Homo sapiens: one gene and its partner. The protein of the gene in region 1 purifies or fractionates together with the protein of each later gene. This does not show direct contact. Each region holds a gene or a part of one and is shown on either strand. Other genes may lie near its edges. The genes, in order: BICD1 and DYNC1I1.

Evidence for each region.
Region 2: the proteins of BICD1 (region 1) and DYNC1I1 purify together in Homo sapiens (co-immunoprecipitation; one study listed by IntAct). This does not show direct contact.

The regions. Positions count from the first base shown.
Region 1 is NC_000012.12:32,109,714-32,113,543, reverse strand, and holds part of BICD1 (protein bicaudal D homolog 1), read right to left. Parts: intron 1-3,830. UniProt on the Homo sapiens protein: Regulates coat complex coatomer protein I (COPI)-independent Golgi-endoplasmic reticulum transport by recruiting the dynein-dynactin motor complex.
Region 2 is NC_000007.14:96,034,241-96,038,070, forward strand, and holds part of DYNC1I1 (cytoplasmic dynein 1 intermediate chain 1), read left to right. Parts: intron 1-1,378; coding exon 1,379-1,512; intron 1,513-3,830. UniProt on the Homo sapiens protein: Acts as one of several non-catalytic accessory components of the cytoplasmic dynein 1 complex that are thought to be involved in linking dynein to cargos and to adapter proteins that regulate dynein function.

The DNA of each region.
Region 1 (3,830 bases):
CATGGTGGCATGGGTCTGTATTCCCAGCTCCTTGGGAGGCTGAGATGGGAGGATCACTTGAGCCAGGATGGTTAGTTAAGGTTGCGGTGAGCTGTAACAGCACCACTGCACTCCAGCCTGGGTGACAGAGAGAAACCCTGTGTCAAAAACAACAGAAACTCATGTAACTTGAGCATCAATTTCACCCTCTAAAACTGCTCTGCCCCATAATACCTTCCTTTGTAAATAGAACCACCTCCTATCCAGCCTGAGAAGATTCTCAGCTCCACTGTCTTCCTCACTTTCCACATATAGTAACATCCAATGCCTGTTCCACCCTACCTCCCAAATAGCTCTTAGACGTGCCCCCTCCTCACGATCCCTACTGCCACTGTCTGTCCCACCACACAGCCTCAATCCACCCACTATGACCATCACCATAACCTTCTATACTGCACTTGTAGACTTGGCAGAGATATTTCATATTCAAGGTAGTATGATGCAGTGAAAAAAAAGTGGGCTTCTTCCAAGTTTCATCGTTTAGTTTTGTGGCCCTGGGAAGAGACCTAAACCTCTCTAAGACCCAGTTTCCTCTTCTGTATAATGCAAGAAACACCTACCTTGAGTAAGGATTGCTGCATGAATTAGAGGTGAGGCTTGTAAAGAACCTAGTTCTAAATGGAGCCTTGTACCTAAGTCAATGCTTTATTATTTTTATTATCTTCTTATCAGTAAAAATGAGCAGTAAGCCCTCTGAATTGTTTTGAAGACTGGTGAGATTAAACACAGTGACTGTTTCATTTATTTTCAATGGCTCCACATCCCCAAGACAAAATGTGGCCATGGCCCTTTCACAATTGCATCTCCTGCCACTTGACTTTACGTGCATTCTCCTTTAGCGTAATGAATTATTTAATACTAAGACTATGCAGCCCTTCATGCCCTCCTCTCCTCAAAGCCATAATTACAGGTGGAATCTTATGTGTGGGCAAGTCCTTTATGTATATTTCAACATGCAAGTAATTAATTACCGTATTTTCAAATTTGGAAAGCAATATCCATGAGTACAACTATATTTAAGGGGATGATAGGGCAAAATATTTGCAAGCAGAAAGTTCTGAAGAAACCTTCAAACCATCGCTGTCATACATGTTCACATAAACATGGGGAATGTGATAAAAGATGATAAATTCTTGCTAAGTTATATCTGAGAAATAACTTCGCCAGAGACGAAATCTTGATTTCAAATAAAAAGAAGGGGCTGGGCGTGGGGGCTCACGCCTGTAATCCCAGCACTTTGGGAGGCTGAGGCAGGCGGATCACCTGAGGTCGGGAGTTCAAGACCAACCTCACCAACATGAAGAAACGCTATCTCTACTAAAAATACAAAACTGGCCAGGTGTGGTGGCGCATGCCTGTAATCCTAGCTACTCGGGAGGCTGAAGCAGAAGAATCACTTGAACCCAAGAGGCAGAATTTGCGGTGAGCCGAGATCACACCATTGCACTCCAGCCTGGGCAACAAGAGTGAAACTCCATCTCAAAAAAAAAAAAAAAAAAAAAAGGGATAGTGCAAGTTAGAGCAACTGGGTCCAGAAAAAAAGAAATGTGATTGAAAGCGATGATGTTTATTTGTTGAGGTTGTTTGTAAACAGTTTCCAAAAGCATATCTTAATGTATTTTAGATTTTAAGATTAATTTGATAATAAATGTAAATATTTTTTCTTTAAAAACATCGAGACCATCCTGGCTAACAAGGTGAAAGCCCATCTCTACTAAAAATACGAAAAATTAGCCAGGTGTGGTGGTGAATGCGTGTAGTCTCAGCTACTCCGGAGGCTGAGGCAGGAGAATGGCGTGAACCCGGGAGGTGGAGCTTGCAGTGAGCCGAGATCACACCACCGCACTCCAGGCTGGGTGAAAGTGCGAGACTCCATCTCAAAATAAAATAAAATAAAATAAAAAAATAAAAACAATGAGAGAAGTTAAAAATCATAGTTCAGATAGATCAATTAAGTATTAACTGTCTCTTTATGTTTATTCATAGATTGGAAAAGAAATCTGGGGTTTTTCTTGCCATATGATTTTGTGATTTAGAACTTAAAGATATAAAAGAAACTAACAATCTTTCTAAGCATCTGAAGGGAAAACAATTCTGCTTAAAGATGAATCTAGGTAATTTAAGTGGCATTCATCAGGTCACCAATGTGACAAGCTCTAAAACTGTGTAAGTACATATTTTTGTGTTGAATGATTTAACTATAACCCTGAAAAAGAATAGAGTTGGCTCCAAAAGAAAAAGCTGCCCAATGTCCAGAAAGTGCTTCTTCAGCAGCTGGTAACTATCCTTGGTGTCAGGGTTGACAAAATAAGCAAGAAAATGGGTTGAAGCTCATTAGTGCATAGTTTACGGTATCCAAGCTGCAAAACTTTTCTAAAGCTGTCTCACAGATACATTTCCTTTTTAAAATGCCATCAGTAATGCTGAATCATTCCTTTCTAAGGGGCTCTTTTTCAACTTTACAACATTTTAAATTTCAACCATTTTTAAGTTAAAAAAAAACTCTTTTTTTTTATTATTATACTTTAAGTTTTAGGGTACATGTGCACAACGTGCAGATTAGTTACATATGTATACATGTGCCATGCTGGTGTGCTGCACCCATTAACTCGTCATTTAGCATTAGGTATATCTCCTAATGCTATCCATCCCCCCTCCCCCCACCCCACAACAGTCCCCAGAGTGTGATGTTCCCCTTCCTGTGTCCATGTGTTCTCATTGTTCAATTCCCATCTATGAGTGAGAACATGCGGTGTAAAAAAAACTCTTAAGTTTAGATCCAAGGTATTTTTATATATGTATATTTTTAGTTTTCAGGTTATTTTGGAGCTATGACTCTTCTTCAAACACTATTCTGGCCTGGGTGACAGGCGCACAGTGCTGATTTACGTACATCCCAAACATATAATCAGCCAGGCCCTGAACATAACTGGGCATGGGTGACCCTCACTCAGGTCACTGAAGAGCAAGTGTTACTTGTGAAATCACAAAACCAGACTCAAGTATTCTAGTGGACATACTGCTCTGTCCAGCTGCCCAAAGAATCATGAAAAGGAGAACACTTTGATGATGTCAGAAGTCATCCTTTTTTCAAATCCTTAGTACTATTCTTTCAAGTGTGTTCTTCTGTGAGCTGAATTACAGTAGTCCATGCAGAGCACTAAACAACATCAGGCCAGGTCAAAAAACAATTGAGTTGAGGGAAGAAATAACTAGGAAAAAAATTTAATGAATTTCATCTTCTTGATTTTGCACATCTTTAGGCAACACTGCCGACTTGCATTATTGTCACAGCAGTACCTAGCCTGGGAAGGAAGGTAGCAACATTGGTGGGTACTGACTCTGGAAAACAAAATGATCTGCAAAGACTGAGCCATGTTGCTATACTGCAAATTACTAATGTCCAATTTGGACTTAATACAGTAGTTTTCTGTTGACATTCCCATAAACTGGTTCAATTATTTTTAAATAAATCATATTTGTTCAAAAATCCTAGAAATAAGCAAAGATTTATTTTATGCTTGGCTTTATAGATATAATGCAACATCATTTACTATACATACCTGATGAGCAAAACTTTCTTTTGAAAAATCAAAACACTCACAAAATATTTTTCAAAACTGAGGTGTTGGAACACCTCAGTTTGCACAATTATTTTGGATTTACTTTTCATACAAGAAATGTTACTTGAAATCAATTTAACTCATTTAAGTTATATTTCCAACTAAAGTATATTCTATGTTTAAAGAATAAAAATAATAGGCCTCACTATCAAATAATCAACTATAATA
Region 2 (3,830 bases), on another chromosome or scaffold:
GGGATTGGTATTTTATGGCTTTGTCTTAAAATTCTCAGCAATGTTTTGTTTTCTTTTAAAAGCCTGAAGATTATAAACAGACATAAGAGCAAGCCCACTATTTAGGAATTTTTAATTGCCCATTTTGCTCATTACACATATTTATTTAGGTTAAAACCAGTAATATGGTGGCTCTAAGTCCGTTTGTATTAGTTTTAGCATGCTCACAGACTCCTGTGTCTATACAAAGATGGAGGATTTCGTGACATGGCTTCCATGGATGGCAGGGAGGAATAGGGGCATCCAACAGTTGGCCTGGTCTTTCTCTCTCCCAAATGGGTAAAGGGACTTTTCCTTCCTTGCTGCTAATTTTAGTGATGAAGCAGATCATTGGATGATCCAGTTATCTGTATGACATAGTCACAGCATCCTCTCCTTTATCCCAGTTGCTGATGTGCACCCTATGTGTGGATATCACAAACTTTGAACACATCACAGGATCAGAATCAGTCTGTGTTGCTTAGACTGTTAGCTTGCACTTTCAATTTAATGGACTCCTTGGCTGAAATAGTTTATTTGCACAAGAAAGACTAAACTCTCAAGCAACTATAATGATATGATACCTCAGAATGATTTTTTAAAAATTATTTCAGATGCACAAAATAGGCTATTTGATGTAAATAGCCAGAAATACTCAGGGATATTAGTTATAATTGATTATTCTTTTCTGTCATTAAACTTAACTCAGCAGTATATCTTTTAAGATTAGGAATCTTTAATTCTCAATTTTAAAAAATCATATTATAAAATAAAGACTCCCATTTGCTATTTTAAAGACGTATTTAAATATTGTTCTTTTCAGGCTTATAGCCTATTCACCCAATGGCTGCCCTGCATGAAATCTAGTCCCTGTTGAAATCTGGTTTTTATGACCTGAGTGACAACTTTCTGGTTTTAGTCCATGGAGGACACATACTCCTGCTTTGACAAATTTGCTTAGTACATCTGATATTAATACATGTGTATTCTCACAAACAATTGATTTTGAAAATGTTTGTAAATACAAGGGTATTGTGTGTTTTATTAAAGCTTGGAGCTGACAAGTGTAACCATTATTATCTTTAGTTTCTGCACCATTAGTTTCAAAATTCTCACCTGTCATCTTTGCCTGACTTAAGAAGCAGCAGCACATGCTGATGAAATCCAGCCGGCTTGAAACCAGAGATCCACAGAAGCATGAATGTCAGGGGCAGTAAAGCATGGTTTCTGGCACAGCCGGGGTCTTTTGTAACGCTGTGTGAAAAGCAAACACATGATTTAGCCAAATGATTTTTCCGTGCTATCTTTGGCATGGCAAGGAGTTGACAGATGGAAATGTAACCACACCGTGTTTTGGTAGGAGAGCATGGAGCTGGTGTACAATAAGTCCAAGCCTGTCGCTGTTACCGGAATGGCTTTCCCAACGGGAGACGTCAATAACTTCGTGGTTGGCAGTGAGGAAGGTACAGTCTACACGGCTTGTCGTCATGGAAGGTGATTTTTCTGTTTCTTTACTGATGACATGTTCTTCATTTCCGAAAGTCTGTTATCACATTCTGGATTTTAACCACCTTGCATTATGAGAAAGCATCTCTGGAAAAATGGAAAGCACGACTTCAACTCTTCATTATCTTAAAGAGCTGCATCTGCTCTGGTCATTAGCTGTTCATAAGACTGTGGTGGTTCACACTGCCTTGAGGGAAAAAAGCTCGAGCTTCTGAGCCTATCATAACAGACCACTTGCACCTTCCCAGCATCTCCGCATACCTTCAGGGTCTAGCCATGTGCCCATCAGAGATAACAATCCCCAAATATTTCTTATCCCTCCATGCCTCAATGAGTTTGCATACTCAACTTCTTTTACCAGTTCTAGCATTTCTCCCTTTTTGGCCTGGTTAATTCCTCCTCATCATTCAAGAGCCAGCACAGAGATCATTCCATGTGAAACATTTTCTGACTCTTGGGCAAAGAAAACCACTCCCACCTTTAAGTCCCATAGAATTTTCAATTCTCTTATTCATTCACTCTTCCAAGGAATATTTACTAAGAACCTACCATGTGCCAGGCATCATCAAAAGGATACATTAAAGAACAAGACAGACCTAGAGTTCATATTCTAGTTGAGGGTAAAATACTAATAAGCAAATAAATATATAGTTTAGGATGGTAAGTGCAATGGAGAAAATTAAAGTAGAATAAGTGGGATAGGACTATAGGCTGTCAAGTTGACAATTTCATATATTTTCCTTATGCTTCTATAATAGCATTAATCGTATTTTAGTTTATTCATTCATCTGCCATTTTTCTCTTACTACATTATTTCCATTTCATCTTTGATTTCCTGCACAGTACCTAGGACATAGTAAGTGAGGAGCTAAAAATATATATTGGGGATAAAGAAATGATATATAATGTAATCCATCCAATCTAAAGAAGTGCCTTAAAAGCTTTCCTCCCAGTCAGATGGGTCAGAACAGAGTGAGTCACACAAACCACCATGCAGTTCCCAGGTGATAAGAACTCTACCTTAACTGAGAGATTCACAATGCCCCTGGAAAAGAGTTGTCAGTATAAAGTGGAATCCAATAGTTTGGACTAGATTGTAAAATTGCATGCAAAACTTAACAGGTGGCCTCATGTCTTTTGAAAGGGTCACTATGTTCACACTGGTGCTTAATTTGTCTTTTACTTTAGTAGTTCTTATTCCATTGATTTTTTTTCATCTCTTGCACTCATCCGAGGCTATTAAGATTTAATGAAGAACCACAAATTGTTCCAAGTTCATATCCCTGTGTTTTTGTGATTTGTAGAAATGACAAGCATCCATGGCTCAGCTATGTGACTTTTTCCATTCAAACTATACAAGCTGTTATGTTCCTGCTGTTCTGCACGTAGAAACAAGCAGTATTTGTCCCCTCACATGATTCAAAGATGACTTAGGAAGATATGCCTCACAGTCCATTCCCAATGATCCTCCTTCATAAACCCTGGCTAAAACCACACATTAAAGCTTTATCAAAGCATAAAAATATTTGATAAAGTTATTCATTCATAAATATATTTGTTGTATGCCTACTTTGAGCAAAGTGCATTGTTAGGTTCTGCAAGGCCTGCAGACGTCATGTAAACCTGGTTTCTCTCTTCAAAATAACTGATGACGGTGAGAAAGATAAATACACAAATATCTGGAACATGAGTAGAATGTCTTAAGTGGCATGAGAGGCATAGAGAGTATAGTAGGCCAGACCTGGAGTCACAGCTTTATCTATATGCGTATTAGAATCAACATGGCATAGGTTCAGTTAACTTAACCCATGGTTTTACCTAGGTCCTTGATTATCTACGAAGGCTATAGAATACATTCATTGATAATTTCCAGATTTTTTTCATTGCTATAAAGTGAATAACATTTTACATGATGAACATTCTTGTTCTGTGGCTACTGTACTTTCTAAGCACTATCAGAATATGCACTTTGGTTCAAAAGAAGGGTCCCTATGGCACACACCACAAATCTTTTTACAACAAGCTGAATTTTGCTTTACATTGGTCCATCCATCTGAAATATAAAATACAGACCTTAGTAACATTGTAACGTAGCAGGCATTGGCTTTGTAGTCATTCTAAATGGGTCATATAGGTCTATGGGGGAGAAGCAGGGGATTGCTATTTTTCACCTAACATAGAGAAGGTGCAAATCCACTTCCATAAATTAAACAAGGTCCTCATTTTGCACCCTATAAATCCTTTCAGGATGCTGTTAAGAGCAAGTGGAGTCTCACCAGGGGCCACTTCAAAGATCAGTTCCTCGG